Homo sapiens: one gene and its partners. The protein of the gene in region 1 interacts with the protein of each later gene in a pairwise test. Each region holds a gene or a part of one and is shown on either strand. Other genes may lie near its edges. The genes, in order: SPTBN4, NEK2 and PFDN1.

Region 1 (3,654 bases):
CTATTTTTTTATTTTCATTTAATTTAATTTTATTTTTTCTGAGATGGGGTCTCACTCTGTCGCCCAGGCTGGAGTGCAGTGGCACGATCTCAGCTCACTGCAACCTCTGTCTCCCAGGTTCAAGCGATTCTACTGTCTCAGTCTCCTGAGTAGCTGGGATTATAGGTGCACAATGCCATGCCTGGCTAATTTCTTGTATTTTAGTAGAGATGGAGTTTCACCAAGTTGCCCAGACTGGTCTCGAACCCCTGAGCTCAGGCAATCCACCCGCCTTGGCCTCCCTAAGTGCCAGGATAACAGGCATGAGCCACCGTGCCCGGCCTATTTTTATTTTTTTATTTTTGTTTGAGATGGTGTCTCGCCCTGTTGCCCAAGCCGGAGTGCAGTGGTGCCATCTTGGCTCACTGCAACCTCTGCCTTCCCAGGTTCAAGCGATTCTCCTGCCTCAGCCTCCTGAGTAGCTGGGATTGCAGGCATGCACTACCATGCCCAGCTCATTTTTGTATTTTTAGTAGAGATGGGGTTTCACCATGTTGGCCGGGCTGGTCTTGAACTCCTGACCTCAAGCGATCTGCCTGCCTTGGCCTCCCAAAGTGCTGGGATTACAGGTATGAGCCACTGTGCCTGCCCCCTCCACTTTAAATTTTTCTTCTTCTTCTTCTTCTTTTTTTCTTGAGAATGAGTCTTACTCTGTCGCCCAGGATAGAGTGCAGTGGCACAATCTCAGCTCATTGCAACCTGCGCCTCCTGGGTTCAAACGATTCTCCTCCCTCAGCCTCCTGAGTAGCTGAGATTACAGTAGCCCGAAACCACACCCAGCTAATTTTTGTATTTTCAGTAGAGACCGGGTTTCACCATGTTGGCCAGGCTGGTCTCGAACTCCTCACCTCGTGATCCGCCTGCCTCGGCCTCCCAAAGTGCTGGGATTACAGGCAGGACCCACTGTGCCCAGCCCCATTAATGCAAATATTCTATCACCTTTTTTTTTTTTGAGACGGAGTCTTGCTCTGTCTCCCAGGCTGGAGTGCATTGGCATGATCTCGGCTCACTGCAGCCTCCACCTCCCAGGTTCAAGTGATTCTCCTGCCTCAGCCTCCTGAATACCTGGGATTACAAGTGTGTGACACCACGCCCAGCTAATTTTTGTATTTTTAGAGACAGGGTTTCACCATGTTGGCCAGGCCGGTCTTGAACTCCTGACCTCAGGTGATCTACCCATCTCAGCCCCAAAAAGTGCTGGGATTACATGCATGAGCCACCGCGCCTGGCCCTATCATCTATGTTTGAATCCTAGATACTAACTGGCTGTGTAACCTTGGAAAAATAGATCAACTCCTCTGTGCCTCAGTTTCCTCCTCTGTAAAATAGGTGTAATAATAGCCAACTGTTAGGGAATTAAATTTGTGGAAATAATAAGAGAAGGTACATGAAGTACTGACCACAGTGCAAGTGTTCAATATGTTCATTATTGTTATTACTGCATTACAGAACTCTATTGTTCTAATAATAACAGTGACAATTTGCTGAGCCCTTAATATGTGCCAGGGGCTAAGCCATGTGTTTTATCACATCCTGTGAAGTGGTGAGGGTGAACATTATTATTATTATTATTTAGAAATAGGGTATCGCCATATTGCCCAGTTTGGAGTGCAGTGTCACTATTATAGATCACTGTAGCCTTGGCTTCTTGGGCTCAAGCCATCTTCCTGCCTCAGCCTCCTAAATAGCTGGGACTACGGGTGGCAACCACCACATTTGGCTAATTTTTAAATTTTTTTAAAAGACAGTTTCTGGCTCTGCTGCCCAGGCTGGAGTGCAGTGGCGCTATCTTGGCTCACTGCAACCTCCACTTCACAGGCTCAAGCCATCCTCACACCTCAGCCTCCTGAGTAGCTGGGATTACAGGCACGTTGCCACCACATCCAGCTATTTTTTTTTTTTTTTTTTTTTTGAGACAGAGTTTCGCTTTTGTTGCCCAGGCTGGAGTGCAATGGCATGATCTTGGCTCACCACAACCTCCGCCTCCCGGGTTCAAGCGCTTCTCCTGCCTCAGCCTCCCGAGTAGCTGGGATTACAGGCATACTCCACCTCGCCTGGAGAATTTTGTATTTTTATTAGAGACAGCGTTCTCCATGTTGGTCAGGCTGATCTCGAACTCCCAACCTCAGGTGATCCGCCCGCCTCTGCCTCCCAAAGTGCTGGGATTATAGGTGTGAGCCACCGTGCCTGGCCAATTTTTGTATTTTTTTGTAGAGACAGGGTTTCACCATGTTGCCCAGGCTTGTCTCGAACTCCTGGGCTCAAGCAATCCGCCCTCCTCAGCCTCTCAAAGTGTTGGGATTATAGGCCTGAGCCACTGCGCCTGGCTTATTTTTATTTTTATAGAGATGAAATCTTGCTATGTTGCCCAGGCTGGTCTCCAACCCCTGGGCTCAAGCGATTCTCCTGCCTCTGCCTCCCAAAGTGCTGGGATTACAGGCATGAGCCACTGTGCCTAGGCCTTATCATTGTTATTATGTCCACTTTAAAGACAGAGAAATTGAGGACAAGAGAGGGGACAGGACTCAAAGCCAGTCACTGTTAGAAATGAGACTTGATCCTAGACCTAACCTACCTCTCCCTATGTCCAGGCCTCACCTTCCCCGATGGCGCAGGTACCAGGGGAAGTGGACAACATGGAGGGCCTGCCTGCTCCTAACAACAACCCTGCTGCCCGCTGGGAGAGTCCGGATCGGGGCTGGGAGCGGGAGCAGCCGGCTGCGTCCACCGCAGCGGCCTCGCTCTTTGAGTGCTCCCGGATCAAGGCCTTGGCAGGTACCTGGAGGAGGGCTGGGGTGGGATGAGGAGGAGGGGGAAGGGGGAAGGGTGCCCGAGAACCTTGGTGGCTGGGAGGGTGGGAAAAGAGACCAGCACTGTCCAATAGAACTTTCCATGATGGTGGAAATAGTCTATATCCATAATGTACCATATAATAATCACTAGTCTCTGTGACTTTTGAATGCTAGAAATGTGGCCAGTGCTATGTGACAGCCTTTGAGTTTTAAATTTTATTTAGTTTTAATTAAATTTATTTATATATATATTTTTTGAGACAGAGTCTTATTCTGTTGCCCCGGCTGGGGTGTAGTGGTGAGATCTTGGGTCACTGCAATCTCCACCTCACCGGCTCAAGCCATCCTCCTACCTCAGCCCCCTGACTAGCTGGGACTACAGGTGCCCGCCACCACACCCGGCTAATTCTTTTTGTATTTTTAGTAGACACCGGGTTTCACTGTGTTTGCCAGGCTGGTTTTGAACTTCTGATCTTAAGTGATCCACTTGCTTTGGCTTCCCAAAGTGCTGGGATTACAGGCATGAGCCACTGCACCTGGCCTGGTGTTTTTTTTTTTTTTTTTTTTGAGACGGAGTTTCGCTCTTGTTGCCCAGGCTGGAGTGCAGTGGCGCGATCTCGGCTCACCGCAACCTCCACCTCCCAGGTTCAAGCGATTCTCCTGCCTCAGCCTCCCTAGTAGCTGGGATTACAGGCATGTGCCACCACGCCCAGCTAATTTTGTATTTTTACTAGAGACGGGGTTTCTCCATGTTGGTCAGGCTGGTCTCGAACTCCCAACCTCAGGTGATCCACATGTCTCGGCCTCCCAAAGTGCTGAGATT
Region 2 (3,654 bases), on another chromosome or scaffold:
CCAGCCCTGTATTGAGTGAGCTGAAACTGAAGGAAATTCAGTTACAGGAGCGAGAGCGAGCTCTCAAAGCAAGAGAAGAAAGATTGGAGCGTAAGTCTGAATGGGGGTCAAAGCAAAGGAGAACTACCAAGTGGGTTATTTTGATGTGTCTGAATATCTCTTTGAGCAGAATATTTTATACATACAGATCTTATTAGAAGCTTTTGAAAAATACTTGAGAAACCAAAATATGTATTTTAGACTTTTTAATAATCAGGCTTGCTGGCACCTTCATGTTGGACATCTTTCTCTGAGATCAGTTGCTAGTTATATATTATTGGGCCTTAACTGTGATGGCCCTAATACGATAGCCTTGTATTTTACTCTAGAGTTACTTTTTTCTTTTTCGTCTCTACTGTGAATACCCTAATGTTTTCCCACTGTAAAGGAAGGTCTTAAAATTGCTGCTTTCCATAATAAAAAACCATGACTTTTGTCTTTTGAAATGGCCACTCCAACAGAATTCCAGGTCTAAAACCCTACAGTATGTAGATGAGATATGTTCAGGCAATTCTTTTCTTTTTTTTTAACTTTTTATTTTTGAAAATGAGATGGGGTCTCACTATATTACCCAGGCTGGTCTTGAACTCCTGAGCTCAAGTGATCCTCCCATCTTACCTCCCAAAGTGCTGGGATTATAGGTGTGACCTACCACACCTGGTCTGTTCAGGCAGTTCAATAGAGAATCTAGATACAAGATATTTTAAGTCTATAAATAATACTCTGGTGGGTATTAACATTGACTTATGAGTATTAACTGATTAGATGCTAATTTAGTTTTGATATTGAAAGTGTGTCTACTCCACCAAGATGAGAGCTACTCGCAAGCATTTAGGGTTATGCAAGGTAGCTACAGAGTGAGGTTCTTCATTTTAACATCAGGAGACGAGAGATGGGGTCGTATTTGTGACCTGTCACCCTCATGACTCACCTGATTTTACTTCTGCAGCTTTATGCCCAATCCAGGCTTTAAATAATGAAATATTGTATAGTCCTGTGAGATATGCTTACTGTATAGGTACAACCTATACTTACTTGGAAACCTCTGTAAAAAATAAGAAAGCTTTTTCTTATAACTTTCCCCAGTGTTTCATAATTTCTTTTCTTTTTTTTTTTTGAGATGGAATTTCACTCTTGTTGCCCAGGCTGAAGTGCAGTGGCACCATCTTGGTTCATTGCAACCTCTACCTCCCGGGTTCAAGCAATTCTCCTGCCTCAGCCTCCTGAGTAGCTGGGATTACAGGCGCCTGCCACCATGCCTGGCTAATTTTTGATTTTTTAGTAGAGATGGGGTTTTGCCATGTTGACCTGGCTGGTCTTGAACTCCTGACATCAGGTGATCCACCTGCCTCGGCCTCCCAAAGTGTTGGGATTACAGGCGTGAGCCACTGTGACCAGCCATAATTTCATATAGCAACTGAAATCTGAATACTTTCTGAATTTGGGGCCATGAATAAATAGTAACATTTGTTATTAATACTAATCCTATGAACTACCACCTAACTGAATTGTGTTTTTTTTCTTTTGTTTGGGTGTGGTCATTCAACCAGAAGAAGGAGATTTTTGTACTGTGAGGCCAGATCATGCCCTGAAAATTAGCTGTTGCTTATCTTCAGTGAAGAGCAGAGATAGCTTTAGTTTTTTGTTTTCCCAAATGAGTTACTCCCACAAAAGATGACCAAAGGTTGAAGCTAACTTTGTATTTGTTTAAACAAGTCCTTTCAAGAAAATCTAAGATAACATACAGCCTACTAAAACACTCAATTAAAAACTAACATAATCAGGTTGACTGAGGCATAGTGAGAATCCTTTCCCCAAACATTGCTTATCAGTATCAGGCATGCTAGTAGTGATAAGATTGCCAAATGTAAATTGTTTTTTAGTCAAGGTCAGTTGTTAATTTTTTTTTCTTTGTCCATTCTCTTTTTAAAGAGAAAGAACAGGAGCTTTGTGTTCGTGAGAGACTAGCAGAGGACAAACTGGCTAGAGCAGAAAATCTGTTGAAGAACTACAGCTTGCTAAAGGAACGGAAGTTCCTGTCTCTGGCAAGTAATCCAGGTATGAGAATCAACTTGGTCAACAGAAGCTGGTGCTACAAATGAAGAAATGTGCACCAGTGTTGCTCCCAAAGTGGCTTAGGTAGCCCTTTTCATTTACAAATCTCAAATTTTAAGATGGATTTCATTGAATATATGCATTTCAATGGAAACAAAATTCTGTTATAGCAATGATTTATTTCCTGGGTTCATAGACCTGAGGCAATGAGTCATAGAATTTCATGTTTGATTTTCTTTACCTTATCAAACTACATGTTTAGTAATTGATACTTATTTTTATTATCATTATTTATTTTTTTATTTTTTTTGAGATGGAGTCTCACTCTGTAGCCCAGGCTGGAGTGCAGTGGCACAATCTCGGCTCACTGCAAGCTCTGCCTCCCGGGTTCACGCCATTCTTCTGCCTCAGCCTCCCAAGTAGCTGGGACTACAGACACCCGCCACCAAGCCCGGCTAATTTTTGTATTTTTAGTAGAGACGGGGTTTCACCGTGTTAGCCAGGATGGTCTCGATTTCCTGACCTCGTGATCCGCCTGCCTCGGCCTCCCAATGTGCTGGGATTACAGGCATGAGACACCGTGCCCAGCCGATACTTATTTTTAAAAATTAGGGCATTTACAAAACTATTGTATGTTTCAGATTTCAGAGAGATAAACTGCATTTCAAGTAAAAATAAACATTTTAATATTGCCATGCCTCATTTTTCATAGAAAGCATGGCTTAAAAGGCATGATAAGCCACCTGCAGAATAGGCTGTCACGTTTGGATCTTTGCTAACACCCTTTCAAGTTGAAAGACATATTTGTTGAAATTTGATTGTTTAATATCTACATATGTTCTCTGCATTTCCTTCTTTATTTAAAGTCTGGTATATAGATATTCAGCTTTCTCAGGGCCCTGCCTTTGTGTGGCATTGTCCCTTCACTCTGCCGCACTGAGATGTGGTTATCGTATATACCAGTGAACCATTGTCTAACATTCTCCATTTTATAGAAACCCTCAATCTAATTTAATCGACTCTTTAAGATTATGTAAAATGCAAACTGTGAAACATCTTTTTGCTTGATTTATGACACAAACTAACTGTTAAAAGTTGTTGGTTTCAAAAATCGAGCATCTGAATTTTCAATAAAATTTAGAGTTTTTATAACTCCCTTATTCCATGTAGGACAGCATATATGAAAGCTATTATTCCCATCTTTAATAAATTGAGATGTAGTGTGATCAATTTAGTGAGCATTGGCAGCATTTTGTAAATGGAACAGACAAAAAACCCTACTTAAGTTAGATTGATGATCACAATAACTTTGTAGTGAATAAGTGATGGAAAGAAATGAAACTACTGATAGAAGTAAATGAAACAAGGATTATATGAAACTTTGGCTTCATCTCTGTTAAAATACCTTCTTTTTTCCCAATATTGCAGTCTACCATTTCAATATTATAAAAATATTTATTCTGGCTTTTCATAGATTCCACACTGTCATCCATAAAGACAAAATAGACTTAAATCATGATTAGGGTGATAAAATGAGGAGAAAATTTTACCTGGATGAAT
Region 3 (3,654 bases), on another chromosome or scaffold:
ACCCTCATCAGTGGTAAATAATGTGCCTGATGTAAAATGGAAAAAGTTGAAAATTTCCACTTGTACATTTTGAGCTTTTCAGAGGTACTATATACACTCTGGAAATAATAATAAAAGATACTAAGGCTTATACAGTGCTTTTTGTTTGAGGAACTCATATAAACACTAATGCATTGATCCTAACACAGTGCTTGATTGTGACTTTAAAAGGTCATGAGTTACTGCTGTTACAAAAAAAAAAAAAAAATGGAGGGGCGCTCCACTTTACAAATATAGTTTAAAAAATATCTAGATAAAAATTGAAACAGATAACTGAAAAAACAAAACTTATAGGGTATTTGTTTGTATGTTGACTTTTCTCTTAGCGTATGATATATTTTTATTCCTTTATTATTTTTTCTTTTACATATGAATCTACTTGAAGCCTGATTTTCTTTTCTTTTTTTTTTTTTTTTTAATGTTTTTAAGACAGGATCTTGCTCTGTTACCCAAGCTGGAGTGCAGTAGCACAATCATGGCTCACTACAGCTTTGATATCTCAGTCTCAATTGATCCTCCCACCTCAGCCTCCCTAGTAGCTGGGACTACAGGCGTGTGCCACTGTGCCTGACTAATATTTTAAATTTATTTTTTGTAGAGATGGGTCTCATCATGTTGCCTGGGCTAGTCTTGAACTCCCAGGCTCAAGCAGTCCTCCTGCCTCGGCCTCTCAGAGTGCTGGGATTACAGGTGTGAGCCACTGTGCCCAACTCCCGCAACCCCCCCGCTTTTTTTTTTAATGAGACAGGGTCTTGCTATGTTGCCCAGACTAGACTCAGACACCTGGGCTCAAACAATCCTCCCACCTCAGCCTCCTGAGTATCTGGGACTGTAGGCCCACACCACTGTTCCCTGCCTGATTCCTATATTAAATAAGAAAGCAGAATCTACTTTTAAGCCTTTATTCCTTCTCAGCCAAGAAGGTTTAAACTTCTGGTGGTTTCCTGAGCTTGACGTATTATGTTAATATGCATTTGTCCTTTTAATTTGCTCAGTTTAATATTTGTAGTATGTAGCTATTGATTTCGATGAATTCAATAGTCATGTGGCTTAATTTTCAACTTTCTTGTGTTTCATAGGTTTATTCTTCAGTCCAAGGAAGCAATTCACAGTCAGCTGTTAGAGAAGCAGAAAATAGCAGAAGAAAAAATTAAAGAACTAGAAGTAAGTTTTTATTGGCAATAGGAGTTAACTTTTGGGAGAAAGTAGTAATCTTATTGTGTCATATTAAATGAAAATGTATGCCTGCCTGCCAAAGTAATGTCATATTATTTTTATTTTCTATAATTACGTTGGAGCCGTGAAGCTGTCATATTCATATTCATAGCGCATATAAGACCAAAACAAAAAAAAAAGAATAGTCTCTTCTTTGGAACTGCAGAGAATTTTGATGAGATGGTTTTAACCTGAATGTATTTTGTTCATTGCCCTTGAATGTGTTTATTCTTTAAAAAAAACAAAACCATAAACAAAATGTAATGTATATTTAAACAACACTTGTGTAGTGGATTGTGGTGGATGGGCAGGAGAGTGGGTAATAATGATAAATTTTAGAGGATCTTGGTATAGGGTCTTTTTTACACATTGTAATTTCTTTAACCTAAATTAGGTTCTATATAAGGACAAAGTAGCAAGCTATAACCAATTAACTATCTGAAGGATGGTGCTCCAATGAGAACAATTTTTTCTTTTTAGCTAGGGAAAAAGATGATAGGTAACAGTAAGCAAATCTTTGGAAATATTACTTTATTATTTTTATTATTATAATTTATTTATACATTAAGACCTTTAGTGAGATATTCTTCTTGGGCTTTGGTGAAAGGCCCATCCTGTGTATAGTAAAAGTTAGACTGGACAAAAAGCTGGTTATTTCTTAGGGACCAAGATTTCCCAACATGTGGGTGGATACATTGACTTCATAGGTCATTTCATCTAATTTCTGTAAGTACTATTTGAGGCAGAGGATCAGAATCTAACTCAGCCCTCTGCTGAATTTGGGAGCTACAACTTGTAGCCTCCTGAGGATTTCTTAGGGGCACTGAATTGGCCTGGCCTGGGAGTATGCAGTATCTTAGGTTACTTAGGCTTATTTTTAACTACTGATAGTTGAAACAAACTTGATAATAGATTTGCAGCTTAGAAAAGTGTATTGTAAAAACAAGACAAAAAAGCAAAAAAACCAAGTAAAGAAAAAACAGCCTGTGATAACCAGATTGTTGTTGTGTCCTATTTTAACATTTTAATCAGCTCAACTGTTCTAAGAGGTTCAGTTTGATATCTGTGTTTTCACTCATAAGAAACAAAAGTATCTTTAAAAACCCAAACAGAATCATTTCATGTAGATAAAACAAAATGCATTTTTGCAACTGTAGGTAAATATATTTAAAATTATCCTAATGAATAATAAGTAGCAAGGTAATATGTATATAATTCTCTTTATGAAAACAAAAAACAAACATTTGTGTATGAATATTGAAGATGATATGTAAGGATATATATTAAATTGTTAATACTGTTTACCCTAAAGAAATTAGATGGGACGTAGGGATAAATGATTTTTTCTTTTTCTTTCTTTCTTTTCTTTTCTTTTCTTTTTTTGTTTTTTTTTTTTTTTTTTGAGACGGAGTTTCGCTCTTGTTGCCCAGGCTGAAGTGCAATGGTGTGATCTCGGCTCACTGCTACCTCCGCCTCCTGGCTTCAAGCGATTCTCCTGTCTCAGCTTCCCAAGTAGCTGGGATTACAGGCATGCGCCACCACGCCCTGCTAATTTTGTGTTTTTAGTAGAGATGGGATTTCTCCTTGTTGGTCAGGCTGGTCTCGAACTCCCGACCTCAGATGATCTGCCTGCCTCGGCCTCCCAAGTGCTGGGAATCATAGGCCACTGCGCCTGGCCTTGATTTTTTTCTTACAATCTCTGTAATAATAAATTATAACAAGTATACATTAACTTTTTTTGTTGTTAACTTTCATGATTAAAAAATTAGCAGAGTGGGCACAGTGGCAAATGCTTGTAGTCCCAGCTACGGGAGGCTGAAGCGGGAGGATTGCCTGAGGCATTCCAGCCTGCGCAACATAACAAGACCTTGTCTCTTTAGGGAAAAAAAAAAACACAAAAACCCCAATTATCAAGGTGAAATTGCCACAGGTGATGATTTTATCAATACCGTACTGCTGAGTTCTGGTGAATATTAAGAAATTTACTTTCTGCAAGTTTCCTTTTGTTGAGTGTCTCAAATACTGGTAGAATGTTTTATCTTTTAGGAAGTTCTTTTTTCTTTTTTAATTTTTCATTTTACATGTTACTTACATTATAAAAGCAATAGAAGTACACCATAAATAAAATATAAAACAAATGATTAAACAATGAAAATATTACTTTGTTTTTCCACCCTCGGTACATCCAAATGTCACCTCTACGGTTTCTGTATCATTCCAAACTTCTATATTTATATCAAGACATTCATACATGCATATATATACACAACCTTTTTTTAAAATAGGAATTATGCTATATATACTGTTTTCCATCATTTGACAGTTTATCTTGCTACTTTAGTAATATAACTCCAGTTTATATACAATTTCTTTTTTTGATTCCCATCATCATGGGCTCCT

What was found.
Region 2: the proteins of SPTBN4 (region 1) and NEK2 interact in a two-hybrid assay, tested with the Homo sapiens proteins (one large-scale study listed by BioGRID and IntAct).
Region 3: the proteins of SPTBN4 (region 1) and PFDN1 interact in a two-hybrid assay, tested with the Homo sapiens proteins (one large-scale study listed by BioGRID and IntAct).

The regions. Positions count from the first base shown.
Region 1 is NC_000019.10:40,469,977-40,473,630, forward strand, and holds part of SPTBN4 (spectrin beta chain, non-erythrocytic 4), read left to right. Parts: intron 1-2,630; 5' UTR 2,631-2,645; coding exon 2,646-2,814; intron 2,815-3,654.
Region 2 is NC_000001.11:211,665,549-211,669,202, reverse strand, and holds part of NEK2 (serine/threonine-protein kinase Nek2), read left to right. Parts: coding exon 1-90; intron 91-1,971; coding exon 1,972-2,097; coding exon of another isoform or gene 2,098-2,141; exon of another isoform or gene 2,142-2,786; intron 2,787-3,654. UniProt on the Homo sapiens protein: Protein kinase which is involved in the control of centrosome separation and bipolar spindle formation in mitotic cells and chromatin condensation in meiotic cells.
Region 3 is NC_000005.10:140,278,998-140,282,651, reverse strand, and holds part of PFDN1 (prefoldin subunit 1), read left to right. Parts: intron 1-1,118; coding exon 1,119-1,203; intron 1,204-3,654. UniProt on the Homo sapiens protein: Binds specifically to cytosolic chaperonin (c-CPN) and transfers target proteins to it. Binds to nascent polypeptide chain and promotes folding in an environment in which there are many competing pathways for nonnative proteins.